Regions from separate parts of the Homo sapiens genome. Here region 2 is linked to region 1. Evidence: fine-mapped expression QTL. Tissue or cell type: whole blood. Region 1 holds a variant in brackets; the other region holds the start of a gene. All regions are shown on one strand. Distances are from middle to middle.

Region 1 (8,104 bases):
AATTGTAGCTCCCACAATTCCCATGTGTTGTGGGAGGTACCCGGTGGGAGGTAATTGAATCATGGGTACGGGTCTTTCCTGTGCTGTTCTTGTAATAGTGAATAGGTCTCACGAGACCTGATGGTTTCATAAAGAGTTTTCCTGCACAAATTCTCTCTCGTCTCTCGTCTGCCGCCATGGAAGACATGCCTTTTGCCTTCCGCCATGATTGTGAGGCCTCCCCAGCCACGTGGAACTGTGAGTCCATTAAACTTCTTCTTCTTTATAAATTACCCCATCTCAGGTATATCTTTATCAGCAGAGTGAAAACAAACTAATACAATCACAAACTGAAATTCCATGGCGCTTGTAGAACATCATGTGACTCTCACGGGGTGGCCCTGCATCTCCCCTGTGCCCGGGTGATAACTGCAGAGCACACCTCCCTCTGCTCCCTGGAGTGCTGGCATAGGAAGACTTCGGGACTGGACTGCGGAGTCACAGCTCTGTTCTGCTTTTGTCCCTAATTAGGTATGTGGTCTGGGTTGTTTCACTTTCTCAGTTTTCTTTTGCTTTCCAGAATGTCTAAAGCTTCTCATGGCCCAAAAATTGTTACTGGTAACGGTAAGAGTAGTGACAGCACCCACTGAGGGGATCTATTGTGTCTAATAAGGGAACATGCTGTGTCCTTTACGTGAATTAGTTCATTCACTCACAACCTTTACTATCCCCATTGTCCAGCTGAGAAAAGTGAGGTTCAGAGGTTAGCCAATAAGGGACAGAGTCAGGACCTGACTCTGGGCCTGATTCTGAAGCCTGAGTCCTACTCATTCTGACAGTGCCACTCAATGCCGTCACTACACTTATATGTGGCACATCGCCTAATAAGCACTGAACTCAAGATGCTGCTTGGCTTGGCTGGCAAGTCCCAGAGTGAAGCTGCTCCGTGGGCTTCTGGGCACTCAGAGGCTCAGACAGGGCCTCTGTCCTCCCTCTCATCCCTCCTCTCCGTCCTAACCCTTTAAACTACTTGTTCCATGTCCCAGACTTGCTTTTGTGGGGAATTGATGAGATATTAATGAAACTGGCTAAGGGGTGATCTGTACCAGAGGACCAGCTTTTAAGGGTCTTGTGGGCAAAACCTACTGAACCATCCAAGAGGTGGCAAAAAGGCTGTCCTACAGCACAATCAACCAGGACTTCAAACACTGTTTCTGAAAGCATTCAGTCCAATCAGAGCACTGGAGCAGCCACACAGCTGCACAAGAGATTCAGTCTCCAATGAGCTATTTCCCTGTGCCTCTCGCTTCCAGTCACAGGCCATGCTCCTGAATCCAGCCACTGACAAACTCGTCTCTTTGGCTGAAGGTAGATGGGGCCAGTGTGGATGGGTGAACCTGTTACAGAGAAGCCTCCTCTATAGCACCATACTTCTGGCTACAGAAGGATTAACACATACAAGACTCTTGTCATGACCATTCCCGCAGTTCACATACACATTCCAACAACACAAAAAACAAACGCACAAAACATCTCTAATCAAAAATGTGTAGAAATAGCTGGGCACAGTGGCTCATGCCTGTAATCCCAGAACTTTGGGTGGCCGAGGCAGGCGGATCACTTGAGGTCAGTTTGGGACTAGCCTGGCCAACATGGTGAAACCCTGGCTCTACTAAAAATATAAAAATTAGCCAGGTGTGGTGGCGGATGCCTGTAATCCCAGCTACTCAGGAGGCTGAGGCAGAATTGCTTGAACCTGGGAGATGGAGGTTGCAGTGAGCTGAGATTGTGCCACTGCACTCCAGGCTGGGCGACAGAGACCCTTTCTCAAACAACAATAACAACAAAGTGTAGAAATGATGTGGTTAAAATGAATACTTTTTAGTCTGATCAAAAGAGGAATTACTTTTTTACTTGTTGCTGCACTACATTGAAAAAAATTTTTTCACACAAAACTATTTTGTAAAGTTCAGTAATTTTTGCCACAACAAATTTAGAAGTTTGGACCAGAATATATTTTATTTTTCTCATAAAAGTTATACCAAAAATATATTTTCTTAACTTAAAAATACAGCTTCAAAAAGCAAAATTTGAGTTGTTAGAATTCATTACACATTTTATAAACAGCAGTGAAAGGAAGAAGTCAGCAGAATGGATTCAATTTTTAAATACACAAATGTTCATTTCACAAGCTTGACTTTGTCCTTTAATAACTTAAAGGTAGGGTTCTTGCTGATTTTCTTGTTAAAGATGACCAGGAGTTCCTCTTCGGATCTGTGATGCTCATCTGTCACTGTGTAGTACTGAGCTAAAACCTTCACAAAGAAAAACATCAAATGAGTGTATTTGACCTGGAAAATTATCTTAAAATGTTCTGTCTTTAACCCAGAAATAGAACAACAGGAAAAAATAAAAGAAACCCAGGAGCAAGCGACACCGGCGTGCTCTCCTTGGAAAACCCAGGCGGCAGCCACGTGCAGGGGTTTGGCCATGTGTGAGTCATCCTGAGAAACAAAGTGAAATAAAGGAGAAGAAACCACTGCTCTGGGATAGGCAAAAGAGAGCAAATATCTAGAAAATAATTTCCAAACAATAAAAATTAAATAAATGGAGCCTCTCTTCAAAGTCTTATAAACAAGCCCAAAATCTAGGCACCACCCTGGCTGAGGCTGTGTGGGGCTTTGGAGCAGCTTGAAAATCACTGAGACACACACACAGATTTTCAGTGTTTTAGGTGAAAAAAGAAAAAAACAAACAATTGTACATTTAGAAATAAGTTCTCCCCAGCTGTTAGACACGTGGGTTTGTTCATATGCCATACCTTTTTCCTTAGCTTTTTGATGGTTATTTCATTGTCTGGGGCCTGTTTCAGAATTGCTTTAATAGTTCCCTTCCAGTTGAATTTACCTACAATATAAATAATAATATTTAAGACATTTCGTTTTGTTGTACTACGAGAAGGGTAAAGAAACAACTTCTGCAACACCTATTTGCTTCCCAGGAAATGAGCTAACCCTCTAATGAACCAGACTCCATAGCACCAAGCATCTGTTCAATTCCAATGTCCTAGAAGCACTCACTACCCTTCAAAGGACTGGCTCTTAAGAGTGAGCAGGTGCCCATGTGCTATTGGCATGACAAACTCCTAGATAGAGTTGTATGTAATGAACTCAACACAGATTTCCTAAGCATCCACTAAGATCATGGGGCTGTCCATGCACAGTAGGGAGGACAAAGATGAGCAAAACAGCTTGACCTGAAATGAGAGAGAGGACAACCACAAACTATTATAGAGGAACTAAAAATACTCATCTAGGGAACTTCTGCTTCTGGGAAGATGGAGTGGACACACTTTCCCCTTCCTCCTGCCCACTACAACTGAGAACCCTGAAACTATATAGGCAAGAAATGTAAGAAGACTCTGAAAGGTAGAGACCAGCTGGGACCTCGGGGCCTGCAGAGCAACACGGGGTGAGCTTCTTGCTGCCTGTACCCCAGATCTGGAGTTGAAGAACCCAGCAACCTGAACACCAACAGCACAGACAAAACAGTCCCAACAGAAGCCTGCTCTCTTGGCAAAGGACCGGGAAACGGCAGCCTAGCAAGACAGAAAACTTTTGTATAATAACAACCCTACTGCAGCCACACATCACAGAAAAAACGGTGGCTCCACCCCCACCCGCACCAGCAAAAGCCGAGTGGCGAGCCTGAGTTCTCTACCCTCGCAAGGCTGTAATGAGGGACGGTGTCACAGAAGGCCAAGCAGGAATTCAGGGGTCTCATCCACACAGGCCGGTCATGAGGCTGCCCCTGCTGTGATGTCAGTGGAACCTGCACCAGGAGCCCTGCCCGGCAGGAGCAAGAAGTGGCCATCCTCAGGTGTGGATGGAGGCTGAGTAGAGAGCCTGGACTTCCGCCCCCACCTGACAGCAACAAGGCCGTGCCCCTCCACAACCACCAAAGTCATGTGAGAGAAAGCCAGT[T/C]AAAACAGAAAGCGTAAACAGGATCTCACACCTTACAAAAACAACTAACTCAAAATGGATCATGGACTTCAATAAAAAATGTAAGACTAGGAGGCATTTAACATAGACCTGAAATTTGCTGTGAGGATATATCTTAAGTGTTCTCAACACACACACACGTAAACTATGTGAGGTGATAAATGTGTTAATCAGCTTGATTGTAGTCACTATTTCACAATGTACATGTATAATAAAACATTAAGTTGAGCTGGGCATGGTGGCTCATGCTTGTAATCCAGGCACTTTGGGAGGCTGAGGCAGAAGGATTGCTTGAGCCCAGGAGTTCAAGACAGGCCTGGGCAACACTGCAAGACCTCCGTCACAAAATTTTAAAACTTCGCTGGGTGTGGTGGTGTGTACTCGTAGTCCTAACTACCCAGGAAGATTGCTTGAGCTCAGGAAGTTGAGGCTGCAGTGAGTCATGATCACACCAATGCACTCCACCCTGGGCAACAGTGAGACCCTGTCTCGAAAAATAAAAATAAAATACAGTAACACATTAAATTGTACACCTGAACTACATAAAATGTTGATTTGTAAAAAAAAAAAAAAAAAAAGTTATCCATTAAGATAATTTAGAAAACAAAAAAATCTTTAGGCTCTAGGGCTAGGTAAAGAGTTGTTAGCACAATCCATAAGATAAATTGATAAATTGAACTTTATCAAAATAAAAACCATTTGCCCTAAAAAGACTCTGTTATGATGAAAAAACAAGCAAAAAGACTGAAAAAAAATTCACAAACTGTTATGTCCCACAAAGGAGTACTATTTAGAATAAATTTAAAAACTAAAATCTCAACAGTTAAAAAAAAAAAAAACCCACAAAAACAACAACCAAAAAAACCCCAAACAACTCAAATTAGAAAATAGGGGAAAAAAATTTAAAAAAAGAGAGCAGACATTTCAACAAAAACATATACAGATAGCAAATATGCACAGAAGAAGGTGCTCAACAACATTAGTCATTAGGGCCACACAAATTCAAACCACAATGAGCGGTTACCACACATCTATCAGAATGGCGAAAATACAACACAGTGGCAACGCCTAATATTGACCATGATGTGGAGAAACTAGATCCTTTACACACTGCTACTGGGAATATAAAATGTGTACAGAGACTCCTGAAACAGCTGACAGTTTTTTCCTTTTTAAATTTTTGTGGGTACACAGCAGGTGTATATGGGGCACGTGAGATATTTTGATACAGACATGCAATGTATGATACTTACATCAGAGTAAATGGGGTATCCATCACCTCAAGCATTTATCCTTTTGTGTTACAAACAATCCAATTATACTCTAGTTATTTTAAAATGTACAATTAAATTATTATTGACTACAGCCACCCTGTTGTGTTATGAAATACTAGATCTTATTCATTCTATTTTCTTGATACCCATTAACCATCCCCACCTCTCCCACAGCCTCCCACCACCCTTTCCAGTCTCTGGTAACCATCCTTTTACTCTCTATCTCCATGAGTTGGCAACTGTTTTGATTTTTAGATCCCACAAATAAGTGAAAACATGCTATGCTTGTCTTCCTGTGCTTGGCTTATTTCACTTAGCATAATGACTTCCAGTTCCATCCACGTTGCTGCAAACGACAGGATCTCATTCTTTTTATGGCTGAATAGTACTCCGCTGTGTACATGCACCACATTTTCTTTACCCATTCATCTGCTGCTGGACACATAGGTTGCTCCAATCTTGGTTATTGTAAATAGTGCTGCAACAAACACGGGAGTGCAGGTATCTCTTCAACACAGGGATTTCCTTTCTTCTGAATATATACCCAAACAGTGGGGCTGCTGGATTGGACGGGAGCTCTATTCTTAGGTTTCTGAGGAACCTCCAAGCGGTTCTCCATAGTGGTTGTACTAATTTACATTCCCACCAACAGTGCACCAGCGTTCCTTTTTCTCCACATCCTCGCCAGCATTAGTTATTGAGCTGGTGGTTTCTTAGAAAAGAAAGAATATGCAACTACTGTATGACACAGCATTGAACATTCGCTTCAGAAAAACTGACTTAGTTCACACAGAAACCTGCACATCAATGTTTACTGCAGCTTTATTCATTAATAACCAGAGACTAGAAACCACCCAGGTGTCCCTCCACAGGTGAATGATGAAAGGACTGTGATGCACGCACAGCACGGGATACTCCTCACCAATAAGATGAATATTGGTCAGTTCAGCAACCTGGGTGAATCTCCAGAGAAAAACGCTGAGCGAAGAGTCAGTCTCAAAAGGTTACATACTGTATGATTCCATTCATAGAACATTCGGAGATTCCAGAAATGAAGAACAGATTAGTGATTGCCAGAGGCTAAGGAGGGGGTGGGGGTGAGAGGGAAGTGGCTGTGGCTACAAGAGGGCAGCAGGAGGCAGCCTTGCGCAATGGCGATGGAAATGGAAGCGTATCCATGTCAACATCCCGGCTGAGATGCTGTACTACAGTTGTGTAAAGTGTTATCCTGGGTGGCAACAAGGTAAAGGGTACGCGGATACATAAGGACGCCTGAGTCTCCATTATTTCTTACAACTGCATGTGAGTCTACAAGGATCTCAAAACAAAAAATGTAACAACAACAACAAAAATAACCATTCCAGTTGTCCCCCTTGATCTGCAGGGGACAGTTCCCAGACCCCCAGTGGATGCCTGAAATCACAATGGTACTGAACCCCTATATATACTGTCTTTCCCTAAATATTCATTCATGCCTATGACAATGCTCCACTTATAAATGAGGCACAGTAAAAGATTATCAATAACTAATAATAAAATAGAACAATTTTACAATACACTATAATAAAAGTTATGTGAATGTGGTCTCTCTGTGTCTCTCTAAATATCTTATTGTCCTATCCTCACCCTTCTTGTGGTGAAGAAGGCATACAGCAGGACAGCAAGAGATCTCGCCATGCTGCTCAGAACAGCATGCAATGGAAAACTTATCAATTGTTTATTTCTGGAATTTTCCATCCCACAGATATGGGGACACTACTGTTTACTAAGTTGAGAAGGGGGTTTTAAGCTTAGAGATCTAACCCAATGCTGGCAGTCACTGAACTCTGCTAATAAAGCTGCAGGCCCATTTGAGTCTTTGGACCTGTTCTGAACTGCAGGATCCTGGGGGTTGGGGGAGGTGGCAGAGAGATGACGACTTGCCACCTCCCGACAGGTATGAGTGCTTCAGGCCTGAAGAAGCAGGAGAGAAGCTTTGTGTAAGAGACAGCATTTCAGAGGGCCCGTGAAGGCCAGGGACTGGATTCTGAGGTTGAGGATACAAGCAAGGAGACCCCAGAAACAGGCCCAGAGATGGGCAGGGGCACAGTTCAGGGGACTTCTAAGAGAACAGTGAAAGGCAGGGGCAAGAGAGTTGGGGAGGAGCGAAAGGGAACCGGGTCTCAGAAAGCTATATTGGGCTTATTTAAATTTCAAAGATAACATACATTTCCAAACCAGACTGCTTTACTTTTCTCCTTAAAGACAGTGGGTGAGAGGCACTGTAAGACTGACTCACACACCCTAGAGAACTGATTTTACTTTCAAATTCTTATATATACCTCTGGAGGGTAAGACCCTACTAGAAGTGCCCACATTACACCTTCCTTCCCCAGAAGGGGGCATCTCTCGGCCCCTCTCCCAACCTACAAGGGACCGTGTATTTCTCTCTTTTCTTTTCTCTCTCTCTCGCTTTTTGAAAGTGGTACGCCCATGGCTCACTACAGCCTCACACTCCTGAGCTCAAGTGACCCTCCTGCCCCTGCCTCTGAAGTAGCTGGGACTATCAGCGAGAGCCGCTGTGCCCAGCCGTGCTCCTCAAATGACAGCAGTGATATACCTTTTGCAGGAGCCTCATCGTCTTCTGGTTCTCCGCCCTCAGGATGCTCTGGGAGCTTCATCTTTTTCTTCTTAGAATCTGTTTCAACTAAGTATTTGGAAAGATTTTTTTTAAAGAAGATTTTGCATTTACGCTAGCAGCTACCATTTAATGAGACCTTATGCGAGCTAGGCAAACTCCACGTATCATCTCATTTCTTCTCCAAGCTGCCCAGCCCCGGTTTATAAAACCCCAGGAGGGTTTTATCCTCC
Region 2 (8,104 bases), 21 kb after region 1:
CAAACATTGCCTAAAACAAAAATGTAAATACTACAAACTTACAAAAAGCCGTCATGTAGAAATTCAGTCACTCCAATGGAAGACAGCAAACATTGCCTAAAACAAAAAAGTAAAACGGTATTGTTCAAATTCCACAAGACTAGATAAGCATGAAGGAAATTTAATTAAACTTTTTTTTTTTTTTTTTGAGAAAGGAGTCTCGCTTTGTCGCCCAGGCTGGAGTGCAGTGGTGCATTCTTGGCTCACTGCAAGCTCCGCCTCCCGGGTTCATGCCATTCTCTTGCCTCAGCCTCCCGAGTAGCTGGGATTACAGGCATCCGCCACCACGCCCAGCTTATTTTTTGTATTTTTTAGTAGAGATAGATGGGGTTTCACCGTGTTAGCCAGGATGGTCTCAATCTCCTGACCTCGTGATCCGCCTGCCTCGGCCTCCCAAAGTGCTGGGATTACAGGCGTGAGCCACCGCGCCCGGCCTTAATTAAATTTTAAATGATGTTTTGGCAAGTTTGGATCATTTATGCTTCTGAAATTATGAAAGCTTAAAACTGCATTAAGATTTTGAGGACACCCAGTCTGCCGGGCTCAGATGTGACAGATTTCAACATCTAGCCCTAAGTGTAAAAAGACAGCAGTTTTTTCATGGGGCTGGATCTAAATAGAGTCCTCTTTTCCTTCCCTGGCTCCCCAACTCCCTCTGCCCAATGTCCAGTCCCAGCGCAGCCAGAGAGATTCTACATGCTTTCCTTCTGGCCACATGCGCATGTTAAAAGAGAAAGGCAGGCAGAAGGCAGTGTTCTTGGACTGGTTGAGAGCATACTTCGGTTCTTGCTCAGTCACTTTAACTCAATTCGGCAGACATTTCCTGAATGCTGACACTATCCTATCCACCCAGATACACCTGGGGCCCTCACGCAGGTCCTCTGCGTGTGCTCCTGGCTGCGTCTTCGTCTGTCTGTATGGTCAGTTTACTGAGCTCTCATCACATGCCATACCCATGAAAAAGATGACGGGGTCTGCACCATAGAACACATGATCATTAGCTCTCTACAAAGCCGTGTCCCATTTATGAACACAACTGCCCCCAATACCACTAAGACTGCTATGATCATACTACCTCCATCTGGAGAGAAAACCTAAGGCTCAGGAGGGTAAGTGAACTGCCCGAAGTCACAGTAAGTGGCAGAGGTGGCCTGAAAGACCAGGCAGCAAGCCCAGGCTCCCACCCTGCCTCCATCTTGACCTGCCATGTCCTAGCCGTTTGCTTGGTGGTTACTCAGCACCTGGGACCTTGAGGTCCTCATCCAAAGAGAAAAAAAATTAAGGTCTCTATAAGATGACTTTCCATGTATAAATATTAGAACCCTAAGTCTTAATTATAAAACCTCTGTGCAGTGGGCAAGGAGACCACCCATGTCACAGGAGAGGCTGTCAGGGTCTGGACAGCAAAGCTAGCTGAGGGGCAGCAGCCAGTGGTCACTAAGGGGCTGGGAACTTGTTAGTCTTCTCTTAACAAGATGGTTGCCAGCTTTTGTTGGACAGGGCCCTGACTCAGGTGTAGAGGATCTGAGCTGGAGCCTACATCTGCTAATGTCAAAAAAGTCATTAAAAACTAAATGACCTCAAAGCACCTTAACTTCCCAGAATCTGTTTATCTGTAAAATGGATCTAATACCTAACTCAAAGCATTGGGTGGAAAGTTAAATAAGACACCAGATATGAAAGCTTCATCCCTGCCCAATTGTAGAAAGGTTTCTCTGTGACCTACTAATTTGCACATCAATGCTATTATACCCAGCCCCCTCCTAAACCCATGCTCCTTTAAATATGACCATCAACCCACCCATTTATGTTCATAAATTCACTCCAACCTTCTCTGGCTCCTCACCCCATGGCTGCCTACTTTACCAAGTTCCCTGATAACATGCCCTTAGGTTTGGTTCTGAGATTGGAATGATTTTTTTTAAATCTTCTTCCCTCTATATTTTTGTATTACTTATTCAATTTTTTTTCTTTTTTTTTTTTTTTTTGAGACGGAGTCTCATTCTGTTGCCCAGGCTGGAGTACAATGGCGCAATCTCGGCTCACTGCAGCCTTTGCCTCCCAGGTTCAAGTGATTCTCCGGCCTCAGCCTCCCCAGTAGCTGGGATTACAGGCACATGCCACCATGCCCGGCTAATTTTTGTATTTTTAGTAGAGACGGAGTTTCACCATGTTGGCCAGGCTGGTTGTGAACTCTTGACCTCAGGTGATCCACCCTCCTCGGCCTCCCAAAGTGCTCGGATGACAGGCACGGGCCACTGCGCTTGGCCTTGACTATTCTTAAAATATTCTTGCATGCACATGCAGACACTGACCTACACATCATTACCACCACTACCACTCAAACAGCCCACCTGAGGGGCCTAGCTGGCAACCCCAGGATATCCCCCACTGAACACTGTGACCCTGAGCATGCCACTGCCTCTATAAACTTCAAGTTATCTCATCTGTGAAACAAGAAGTCAGGCCAACTTGACAAGACTCAAGCCCCTTCCACGGGTAGCATTCTGAGAAACCATGGGTATGGTGCAAGAGAAGGACAGACAAACATACTCTGTCCACCATCCTGCCTAAACCTTTGTGTATGAGGCTGACAAGGGTTACAATGGGTGACATTCACAAGGAGAGAATCTCTCCCTTGTTCCTTGCAAAAGCCCTGGGAAGTAGGTGCACCTATCTCCACTAAACAGATGAGCAAACTGAGGCACAGAAGCCATTTCTCTCTGCCTCCTACCCCACCCACGGCATCACCAGCACTGTTTTAAACACCATCCCTTCACTCGAGTAACTACCATGTGTCAGGCACTATGCTAGACCCTGGGAGCCTCGGGCACAGTGTGAGTAAGTCCCAAGTGGGCCCTCTCTGCTAGAAATCAGGGTTGCAAATACAGACCCCACCTCATCCTCCTCCCTCTCTCCTCAGAGGTAGGTGCTTCAGAGAATCCTAACATTCATGGAGCACCCAAGCCCTCTCATAGGAGGTTAACACATTTCTACTCATGTAATCCTCATCACAGTTCTCCGAGTTAGATTCTATATGTTATGACAGATGAGGAAAGTGAGGCGCAAAGAGGTTAAAAAACTTACACCAGGTCATCCCACATCCAGGTAGTGGCAACCCAGATTCACACGCAGTAGTTATTCTGATCCTAAGTATGTGCTCTGGACCGCTACATCCTAAGGCCTCCTCTTTAGGGACTGATCTCCCAAGGCTCAGAGAAGAGCCCTGTCTCCAACATGCAGCAAGCCTGAAGCCCAGTCGGGCGGTGACCAATCGTCCTGGTTTGGCCAGGCCCGAGGGAGTTCCCAGGACGCCGGACCTTAAGTTTTAAAACTAAAACGAGTTGGTCACCCTAAGTCCAGGACTCCTGCCACTTCCCCAGAGCAGGAGTGAGATCTGAATGGAACTCCTTCCTCCATGCGTAACCCAGAGGGGCTGACGGTGGAAATCCCGTCCCTCCCCTACTCACTCTCTGAGCCCCAGCCTCCCAGGTCGGACCTCTGGGCCACCACCCCTCACCTCTCAGCCAGCGCCCGCCAACGGTTTCAACCGGCCGCGGGGAGCACGTGGACTCGCCGCCGCCAGCCCAGCGCCGCAGCTACCTGCCTCTCAGGCTTCGCGGTGCAGAATTCGCTTCTGAACCACCCAGCGCGCCTGCGCACCGCGGCCACGCCCCCCCCAGTGGAAGTGACGCCAACGGAAGCAGGAAGGCGGTTCCGGCAAGCCAAGGGGGCGTTGTCGTGATGATTCCGCGGCCAGCGGATCGCTGCGAGTGGCCTTGAAGGCAGCTGCTGCAGGTGAAGAGTAGGCGGCGGGGCAGAGAGCGGCCTCCGAGGGTAAGGTGGCCGGCCTTGCGAAGGCGTGCGGGGCTGGCGCTGGTGGGAATGGCCCGGAAGGGAAGGGAGGCCGGGCGCCCGAAGGTGGCCCAGAAGGGCATGGACCCACCGCTCCTTCCCGTCTCTGGGCACTCGAGGATACCCGGGGGGTTGGCGGCTCCTGCGAGAGTCAGCGAGCATTTGCTCTGTGCCGGGCATCACAGGGGACGCGGACTGAGACCCAGACGGCCAGGTTCCGGGCCTGGGAGCCGGGCCTTCTCCCTGGTGCAGCTTCCTCGGCCTGGAAACCCCACCCGCGCCCTCTCATCTCCAGGCTTTGCCCGCTGGAAGCCAGCCCGGCCCGCCTCCGCTACGCGCTGCCCATCTCTCGGCTTCTGTTTCCTTCCACGCTGTAGTTGAGAGTAGCGCTTAAGACGACAGAGCCCACAGCCTAGCTCAGTTTCATTACGGTGTGGCCTCTTTGTGCCTCAGCCCCGCATCTGTAAAGCGAATGTCATAGCGGCACCTGCGTCCCTGGAACCTTGTCGTATTTCATGAGTTGGTGCATGTAAATCGCTTAGACTAGTGGCTGCCACTTAGTAAGTACTCAATAAACGTTAGCTCTTCTCAGCCCTTAAAACAGGGTCTGGCACACAGTGGTGGTCACTAGGTGTTTGTTGCTTAAATGAATGAATGAAAGTTGAGTGGAGGATGCACAGAGTATTGTGAGAAACCTTCACTCCCAAGGTGTGTGTATATGGGTGATAAGGTTTCACTCTGAAAGTGAGCAGTGTTGGGCCTGGAATAGAAGGTGTATTAGTTTGCTAGGACTGCAAACAAAATACTGGGTGGCTTAAACAACAGAAATTTATTATTTTCTCACAGTTCTGGAGGTTAGAAGTCCAAGATCAAGGTGTCTTCAGGTTTGGTTTCTTCTGAGACATTTCTCCTTGGCTTGCACGTGGCTGCTTTCTTGCTGTGTCCTCGCATGGTCTTTCCTCTGTGTTTTCACATCTCTGGCGTCTCTCTTTGCATCCAGATTTCCTCTTTATGAGAACGTCAGTCAGGTTGTATTAGGGCCCACCTTAATGGCCTCATTTTAACTTAATTACCTTCTTACAAGCCTGATCTCCAAATACAATCACATTCTGGAGTGCTGGGGGAACAGTTTAACCATAACAGAAGGAATTCACAGAAATGGACAAGGAGGGAAATACTTTCCAACAGAAGTGACAGAATGGCCAGGAGGCTTAAAAGCAGGGTGCTCAAGATGTTTTTTGTGTTCAGGGCACATATGTGTACTTCAGTCTTGTTTGTGCTCTCGTACTGTTTTTGGGTTTGGTTGTTGTTGTTTGTTTGTTTGTCCTCCTGAATACTCAAAGAAAGTGAGCCCTCTCATTTTTTTAGTCTGGCAAACTTAACTCACATTTCAGCATAGATGTGTCTTCCAGGAAGTTTTCCCTGACCCTCCCTCCCAAATTAATTTCTGCTTCCTCCATTTAATAACTTTGGTACAGGGCTGGGTGCGGTGGCTCACGCCTGTAATCCCAGCGCTTTGGGAGGCCGAGGCAGGCAGCTCCTGAGGTCAAGAGATAGAGACCAGCCTGGCCAACATGGTGAAACCCTGTAAACCCCATCTCTACTAAGAGTACCAAAATTAGGCGGGTGTGGTGGCGCATGCCTGTAATCCCAGCACTTTGGGAGGCTGAGGCGAGTGGATCATTTGAGGTCAGGAGTTTGACACCAGCCTGGCCAACATGGTGAGACCCCCACCCCTCGTCCTTACTAAAAATACAAAAATTAGCTGGGTGTGGTGGTGCATGCCTGTAATCCCAGCTACTCGGGAGGCTGAGGCAGAAGAATCGCTTGAACCCAGGAGGTGGAGGTTGCACTGAGCCGAAAGCACACCACTCCACTCCAGCCTGGTCAACTGAGCAAGACTGCGTCTCGGAAAAAAATAAAAAATAACTCTGGTACAGTGCAACGATACTTGTTTTTCCCACTAGACTGATGCTTCATGAAGACATGGATGACCGTATCTGATGTGTTTGCCATCGTACCTTCAGTGCCTAGCGCATAATGGGCATTGTGTAAAGTTAAGTGAATGATGGAAAACTGAGACACAGAGCCTGTGAAGAGTAGGGAACACATCTGTTCCGTTTGTCAGCATTCCATCCTCGCGACAATCTGTTGCACATGTTAGGCACACAGTATCTGTTTAACCCAATTGGCCTTCCCAGTATGATAAGAGTCAGCATAAAGCTAAGACAAGATTCCAGGTTTGTTGCTTCAAGCCAGTGCTTTTATGAGTAGGGTGGAGGTGAGGAGCTACAAGTAAGCCATTTGGAAAGTATGATGATGGGCAGACTCCTTAGGAGCCCTCTGAGGTAAGCTTGACTTTAAGGTGCGTGAACTGTGGGCCCTTGGAGAAGTAATCTATTAATGGCACTGCTGAAAAAACATCCACAAATTCTATCCAGTAGTATTTGACCTGTTGGTAGAATTGAGGGGCCTTTGCTCTAGGAGTCCTCTCTGCAGGTTGAAATTCCATTCTGGCTGTTGTTTTCTTTAGAAGCATTTCTTCATTCACATTGATCTAAACTTTTTCTTGTTTCTTTTCCCCCCATATTTTCATTTTTTGACGCCATTCATACCATCTTTCCACCATCACATTCCTTGTATAGATTTGTAGCTTTTAGAACTAGGAAAAAACCTCTAAAAGAGATCATCTAGTCCAATAGGGGACCTCTCCATTTTTATAGATGAAAAACTGAGGCCCAGAGTCTCATCCATCCAGAAATATGTATTGAGTGCCTATTATGTCAAAGACACTCTGCTAGGCACCAGAGATACATTGTTCAATAAGACAGATGGAGTCCATGTCTTCACCACAGAAAATTTTTACTGCTTGTCACTAGGTGAGTTAGTCGCAAAGATGGAAGAGAACCTTCTGCTCCTTCTCTCACGCTATAACACCTTGTGTAGCACATCTTAGTCCTGAATTGTGCAGTTCCTTAATGCAAAGCTTGTCTGTGGGATTACCTGGACAATCAGGCATAGGCAGTAGACTGAAGAGGCAGCTGATTCCGATCAAAGGAAACAGTGGTTATGAATGCGGCTTTGGTGTCAGATTCCCTGGCTCTGAATCCCACCTCTGTCCCTTATTACTTACCTATTTTTAGCTGTGTGACCATCTTCTCTGTATATGGTCAGGTTTTCTGTTGCTGTGTAACACTCTACCCCCAAATTTAGTGACTCAAAAACTATTTTATCTCATAATTCTGCAGGTTAGGTATTCAGGCAGGTGTCAGCTGAGAAATTCTTCAATTCTATGTGGTGTCAACTGGGATCACTCAGTGGCATTCAGTTGGAGGAGGGGCCAGCCTGGAGAGGTCAGGATGGCTTTCCTGGGAGCCAGCTGAACCCTTCTCTGTCTCCATGTGTTCTCTCTAGCTGGGCATCTTACAGGTGGCTCAGGCCTTCCATAGCCACTGTTCTGAAAGATGGGAAGTGGAAGCTGTTAGCTCTTTAAAGGCCTGGGCCTGGGAAATGAGCACAGCTTTGTAGCACAGAATCTGATTAAGGCAGAGCCTGTGCAGGAGGGAAGGAGACCTAGACTCCACTACCCCATGGGAGAATCATCGGAGAATTTGTGGCCATCTTAAATCTGACAAATTCCTCATTGTCCTCACCTGTAAAATGTGGATAATAGTAGCACCTATCTTATGGTAAATGAGTTAATAAGTGTAAAGGGCTTAGAATAGTGCCTGGCATCTAGGAAACATAAGTATTTGTCATAATCATTACTATTATTAGGTATAAGATACATTTTTGTTTATAATTGACAGAACACATAAGAAATGTAAGATACAATTTTTTTTCCAGACCTTTTTATAACCTCATTGGGGTTTCCAGACCTTTTAATAACCTTATTGGGGTTTCCAGACCTTTTTATAACCTTACTGGGGAGGTACAGGATTGACATCATGAAGTAATTTAGAGAACTATACAAAATGATATGGAATAATAATAATTATTATTTTGAGATGGAGTCTCGTTCTGTTGCCCAGGCTGGAGTGCAGTGGTGCAATCTCGGCTCACTGGAACCTCGGCCTTCTGGGTTCAAGCGATTCTCCTGCCTCAGCCTCCAGAGTAGCTGGTATTATAGGCATGCGTCACCACGCCTGGCTAATTTTTGTATTTTTAGTGGAGATGGTTTCTTCGTGTTGGCTAGACTGGTCTCGAACTC

What was found. PIP is the estimated chance that this variant, and not a neighbour inherited with it, causes the effect.
Region 2: LYAR starts here. The variant in region 1 is fine-mapped to the expression of LYAR in whole blood (INTERVAL, PIP above 0.99).

What each region holds. Positions count from the first base shown.
Region 1 is chr4:4,265,730-4,273,833 of GRCh38, forward strand. LYAR (Ly1 antibody reactive) reads right to left here. Exons shown (of 10, transcript NM_017816.3): 8 at 7,854-7,940; 9 at 2,801-2,886; 10 at 1,972-2,294. The coding sequence ends at 2,160. Among named protein-coding and RNA genes, the nearest start is that of LYAR, 20 kb to the right of the region's middle. RefSeq lists a silencer at 3,672-3,849. The variant T/C (reference allele first, on the strand shown) is at 3,963.
Region 2 is chr4:4,286,477-4,294,580 of GRCh38, forward strand. It overlaps LYAR (Ly1 antibody reactive), which reads right to left and starts at 3,678. Exons shown (of 10, transcript NM_017816.3): 1 at 3,560-3,678; 2 at 43-96. It overlaps ZBTB49 (zinc finger and BTB domain containing 49), which reads left to right and starts at 3,775. Exons shown (of 8, transcript NM_145291.4): 1 at 3,775-3,876. RefSeq lists enhancers at 1,627-2,165, 2,166-2,703.